Linked DNA regions of Homo sapiens. The protein of the gene in region 1 interacts with the protein of each later gene in a pairwise test. Each region holds a gene or a part of one and is shown in the gene's direction. Other genes may lie near its edges.

Region 1 (3,500 bases):
TGAGTAGGGCTGAGCAAATGCGGCAAAATCAATGCACATATGACAAGATTCAGTGGCCCAAAGAAGGGAGCTAAATGAGGAATCAAAGCAAATACCCCATATGGAATTGCTGTAAAAAATCAGAGAAAACCTGAAAGTAGTGGTTTTCAAGCATGACCCACTAGTGGATTGAAAATCAACTTAGCGGGTTGGAACCAACTTCCTTTTTCTAAAACAAAAAAAGAATAGCATACATCAGATTGCATCAGGTTCTTAGCAAAATCATATTTTATATTATCTTTTTCATACCAAAGATATTTTATATTATTTTTATTATACCGTAGTAAAGGTATTGTTTCATGAAAGTTTTTAGTTATATATATTTATTTATTTATGTATACATATAAATCTTATGTGTATGTGATCCATGTACTATGATGTAAAATGTAAATTATTATGGTAAGTCAAGATTTTTTTAATTTTTAAAATTCTTTAAAAATTATTTTTATTTATTTATCTATTTATTTTTTGAAACAGGGTCTCACTCTGTTGCCCAGGCTGGAGTTCAGCAGTGCAATCCCGGCTCACTGCAGCCTTGACTCCGTGAGCTCAGGTGATTCTCCCCCTTCAGCCTCCCGAGTAGCTGGGACTACAGGCACACGCCACCACACCTGGATAATTTTTTGTATTTTTATTAGAGATGGGGTTTTGCCATGTTGGCCAGGCTGGTCTCAAACTCTTGAGCTCGAGTGATCTGCTCGCCTCAACCTCCCAAAGTGCTGGAATTAAAGTCGTGAGCCACCATGCCTAGCCTAGGTCAAGATTTTAAAAGTTTCATAAATAGTCCTGTAGAACACTGGGTGGAGTTTGGAATGGTGAAAATGTGTCAGGAGAGTATTGTAACTGAAATATTCCTGATCTTCTCTTTCAAAAAGATGGCCTTCTTCCCATTATCCAAGGCAAGGATTTCAGGCCTGAGTCAGCCATAAGCTCATCTGTCTTTTTTTCTGTACTTACCTCCTCATAAATGGATTAAGAGAGCCTCGAGCAATGGTGAGGGTTGGAGAAGGTGGACAGGTGGCCCAGTCTTATGCGCTTTCCCTCTCTTCCTTCCTTCTCCTCATCCTCCAAGGATGGTTGTAGCCAACTCCAGCCAAAGTGCAGATGCCAGAGAATCCTGCAGCAGTTGCTGAGAACACAGGATACCTGTCACATTTACTGAAGCAGTGGCAGGACAATGCATCCCCTGCATTGAGCTAGTTGTCAGAAGCAGAAAATAAAAAGTGTGTGTGTGTCTCTGTGTGTGTGTGTGTGTATGTGTGGTGAAAAAGAGAAATATATCTAAAAATAATCTTAAAAGACATGATATGTAATTTCTTACCAAAACTCAAGCCAAAGCAATCACACATACACCCACACACATGCACGCACACACCCCCATCCACACACACACACACAGAAGTAAATGACAGCAGTTGGACCATCAAAATCTGAAAAATTCTTTCAGGCCAAAGACTCCATAATGCTCTATAGCTGTTATTTTGCATTTCTTTGAATCTCCTCTCAGTTCTATTTAGAGATCACGAAATGTCTAATTTAATGGCCCTGCCCTTAGTTCTCCAGGAAGGAGATCTTAGTTGTTCATCCACGAACAACTTTTTGAGCCACTTTCCTACTTCTATTTCTTCCAGTAGGCAGATCATATTTTGGGTTTCTTTGTTTTAAGTTTGTGGTTTTTGTTTTTCCCTCTTTTTCTTTTTAGGTTGTAGTTAAGTGGTGTATACAAATTTATTAGCAATTTATTATATTGCCACTTTGTATTTTAATCTTTAATATTAAATTTTGTGTTTGGTAAAAATGCTGTAATTAGTAAAATGTAGAGTAATCAGTTTTTACCCATTCTCTGCTCTTCAATAACAGCTTGTTGAGTATTCTCTCTGATTTATTCTAGCATCAGACACACACACGCGCACACACTGTGCTGCAGCATGTTTTGTTTTCCAATTCTATGTAGCACAAAAAGACTTAACCTCATTCTTCTCCATATCTCAACAGTATTCCATGTATCTTGATGATCACTTACAATATAAGGCAAGTAAGCATAGGCAATTCATCAGATTTGAACCAGAGATGGGGTTACTAAGTGAACTATTAGTTCCCCAGAAGAATTAGCCCAAGCAAAGGTGTTGTACAGTATGTAAAATGTCTTTTCCTACTTTATACATTTTATCTGGCCAGAGAACACCTTTAAACATTAAATGCAATCATCCTTAGTCATTCAACAAATATTTACTGAGCAATTGATAGAGGCCATTCGCCAAGCTAGGCCTCATGGATCAACTCGAAATATGACAGACAGACTCTGCCCTCAGGGAGCTTAGAGTTCAGTAGACATGACCAGTGGTGACACAAGCCACTGGAGTAGCATCAGATGAGTGCTTTGGTAGTGGAAGAACCTGTTCTCAGAGCACAGACAGCTTTGGGGGTCTGTATTGGTTTGTGGTTTCATTTTAAAGAAGTGTTATCCAAAAATAGGGTTTGAAGAGTGATGAAAATTTAGCATCATCAAGGACTATAGAAAATTTGGAAGGCATATCTCCTAATGCTATCCCTCCCCCCTCCCTACACCCACAACAGTCCCCAGTGTGTGATGTTCCCCTTCCTGTGTCCATGTGTTCTCATTGTTCAATTCCACCTATGAGTGAGAACATGCAGTGTTTGGTTTTTTGTCCTTGCAATAGTTTGCTGAGAATGATGGTTTCCAGTTTCATCCATGTCCCTACAAAGGACATGAACTCATCATTTTTTATGGCTGCATAGTATTCCATGGTGTATATGTGCCACATTTTCTTAATCCAGTCTATCATTGTTGGACATTTAGGTTGGTTCCAAGTCTTTGCTATTGTGAATAGTGCCCCAATAAACATACGTGTGCATGTGTCTTTATAGCAGCATGATTTATAATCTTTTGGGTATATACCCAGTAATGGGATGGCTGGGTCAAATGGTATTCCTAGTTCTAGATCCCTGAGGAATCGCCACACTGACTTCCACAATGGTTGAACTAGTTTACAGTCCCACCAACAGTGTAAAAGTGTTCCTATTTCTCCACATCCTCTCCAGCACCTGTTGTTTCCTGACTTTTTAATGATCACCATTCTAACTGGTGTGAGATGATATCTCATTGTGGTTTTGATTTGCATTTCTCTGATGGCCAGTGATGATGAGCACTTTTTCATGTGTCTGTTGGCTGCGTAAATGTCTTCTTTTGAGAAGTGTCTGTTCATATCCTTCACCCACTTTTTGATGGGGTTGTTTTTTTCTTGTAAATTTGTTTGAGTTCATTGTAGATTCTGGATATTAGCCCTTTGTCAGATGAGTAGGTTGCAAAAATTTTCTCCCATTCTGTCAGTTGCCTGTTCACTCTGATGGTAGTTTCTTTTGCTGTGCAGAAGCTCTTTAGTTTAATTAGATCCCATTGGTCAATTTTGTCTTTTGTTGCCATTGCTTTTGGTGTTTTA
Region 2 (2,367 bases), on another chromosome or scaffold:
TGAAACCCCATCTCTACCAAAAATACAAACCAGCCAGGTGTGGTGGCGGGCGCCTGTCGTCCCAGCTACTAGGGAGGCTGAGGCGGGAGGATGGCTTGAACCTCGGAGGCAGAGGTTGCAGTGAGCCAAGATCTGCCATTGCACTTCAGCCTGGGCAACAGTGAGACCCTGTCTCAACAAAAAAAAAAAAAAAAAAAAAAAAAAAAAAAAAAAGCCAGGAGTTGTGACTTATGCCTGTAATCCCAGCCCTTTGGGAGGCTGAGGTGGGCAGATCACCTGAGACCAGGAGTTTGAGACCAGCCTGGGCAACATGCCAAAACGCTGTCTCTAATAAAAACACAAAAATTAGTTGGCCACGGTGGTGCACACCTGTACTCCCAGCTACTCGGGAGGCTGAGGCACAAGAGTCACTTGAACCCGGGAGGCGGAGGTTGCTGTAAGCTGAGATGAAAACGGACATTGTCTTTGCTCTTTGTGCTTCTTTGGCTTTGCCAGTACTAAAGCTGTGCCTTACAGACCGGGTTTCTCTTCCAGGGATGTGTCTTGGTGAGCTAGTCATTAACCCCCACCAGCAGCACATGGATGCATTCTATTGGGTGATTGACTGGGAAGGGATGATCTCTGTCTCTAGCCTGGTGGGACTTCTTGAAAAGCACTTCTTCCCCAAGTGGCTTCAGGTACACTTTGTTTTGCTTGGATTTCTGGGGGAGGGAACTGGGTGGGGATTAAGTTAATTTTCTGCCAAGGCCTGACTGTAGGTACAATTCCATAATGAAAATAAATTACATGGTAGGGTAGGAATGAGTTAGGTCATCTTCATAGTGGGCACCATTTATTGGACATTTGCCATGTATCAGAAGCTGTTCCAAGCACTTTATTTGCTTTATCTCAGCTCCTCTCAGCAACCCTATGGGGTAGGGGATATGGTATCCCTGTTGTGTAGACATGGAAGCTGAGGCTCAGAGAGTTTACATGCAAGGGCACTTTAGCTACCAGGCTGACTCCAAAATCCATATTCATAAGTGCTAGACTGTTTAGCTACTATAAATCCCTGTAAAGTAGTGTCACTAGCCTGTAGGACCAGGATCAAAACAAAACAAATGGCCACTTCAGAAATCTTGCCTTCATTTGTTGCCACGATGGATGCAAGTAATTTTTCTTTTTGGCAGGTGCTGTGCTCTTGGCTCAGTAACAGCCCAAATTATGAGGAGATCACCAAGTGGTACCTGGGTTGGAAGTCGATGTTCTCAGACCAAGTGCTGGCACATCCATCTGTCAAGGACAAATTTAATGAGGCACTTGATATCATGAACCGGGCGGTGTCCTCCAACGTTGGTAAGTGAGGATTCCCATTTTGGATGTCCTGGCCCCAAGTTTCAGATTTTACACATGTAAATGACACAGAATCAGAGTTTTCTGGTTCCTGTAGGCAGCCTAAACCTTAGGTCACACTTTTGCACATAGCAACAGACTCTCACCCTGCTGACTGGGGTACATGGTCAGCTGGCACCCACTGCCCAGGTCTACCATGACTGAGAGGGGCATCTTCCCTGAGTGGAGACTGACTTAAGCTGGATTCAGATGATGTCAGTCTAACCCCAGGCCCCGCCCTCTTAACCACTGTGCTGTGTGGCCTTTTAAGGCTCATTCATGCCTGAGCATGCTGCTTAGGTGACGCATCTTACAGTGTGGAGTTTGGCACGCGGTCTGACACTTGGTGATTGCTCAGCCTTAATCAGCCCCATTTTACCTGTTAAACAGTAAGATCTACTTTATAGGCTAAAAGGGAGAGTGAGTTCATGCTTGTGTATAGCCTTCAATAGGTGGTGTCTGTGTTGTCAAAAACAGGCAGTTCACTGTTCGTGTACTATATCTGTTCCCAAGTTCTAGGTAAGTCATTCTGCCTAGATCATAAGTAAGTGAGAGTATATTTATGTTTCTACATTTGGGAGCCTATTTCAACCAGTCCTGTGCTCCAGTGTTGCTCATTAGCCGATTCGCAGCATTGAAATGGGATCGTCTAGTCTGTGTTTTACAGATAAGCCCAGCGAGGCTGAGAGCCTGTTCAAGGTCACATAGTTAAAGGGTGGCAGTTAGAACTGGAATTTCTATTTCCTGAGTCTTTAATTCTTGTTATTTAATAGCCTAGGCCAGGCACGGTGGCTCACGCCTGTAATCCTAGCACTTTGGGAGGCCGAGGCGGGTAGATCACGAGGTCAGGAGTTCGAGACCAGCCTGACCAACATGGTGAAACCCCGTCTCTACTAAAAATGCAAAAATTAGCCGGGCGCGGTGGCACATGCCTGTAATGCCAGCTACTTAGGAGGCTGAGGCAGAAGAATCGCTTAAACCTGGGAGGCAGAGGTT

Evidence for each region. Proteins that work in one complex are often made in the same cells at the same time.
Region 2: the proteins of IL16 (region 1) and TFIP11 interact in binary tests that used the Homo sapiens proteins (3 or more experiments, as listed by UniProt).

The regions. Positions count from the first base shown.
Region 1 is NC_000015.10:81,199,879-81,203,378, forward strand, and holds part of IL16 (pro-interleukin-16), read left to right. Parts: intron 1-522; exon of another isoform or gene 523-592; intron 593-3,500. UniProt on the Homo sapiens protein: Interleukin-16 stimulates a migratory response in CD4+ lymphocytes, monocytes, and eosinophils. Primes CD4+ T-cells for IL-2 and IL-15 responsiveness. Also induces T-lymphocyte expression of interleukin 2 receptor. Ligand for CD4.
Region 2 is NC_000022.11:26,493,107-26,495,473, reverse strand, and holds part of TFIP11 (tuftelin-interacting protein 11), read left to right. Parts: intron 1-534; coding exon 535-677; intron 678-815; exon of another isoform or gene 816-1,169; coding exon 1,170-1,335; exon of another isoform or gene 1,336-2,367. UniProt on the Homo sapiens protein: Involved in pre-mRNA splicing, specifically in spliceosome disassembly during late-stage splicing events. Intron turnover seems to proceed through reactions in two lariat-intron associated complexes termed Intron Large (IL) and Intron Small (IS).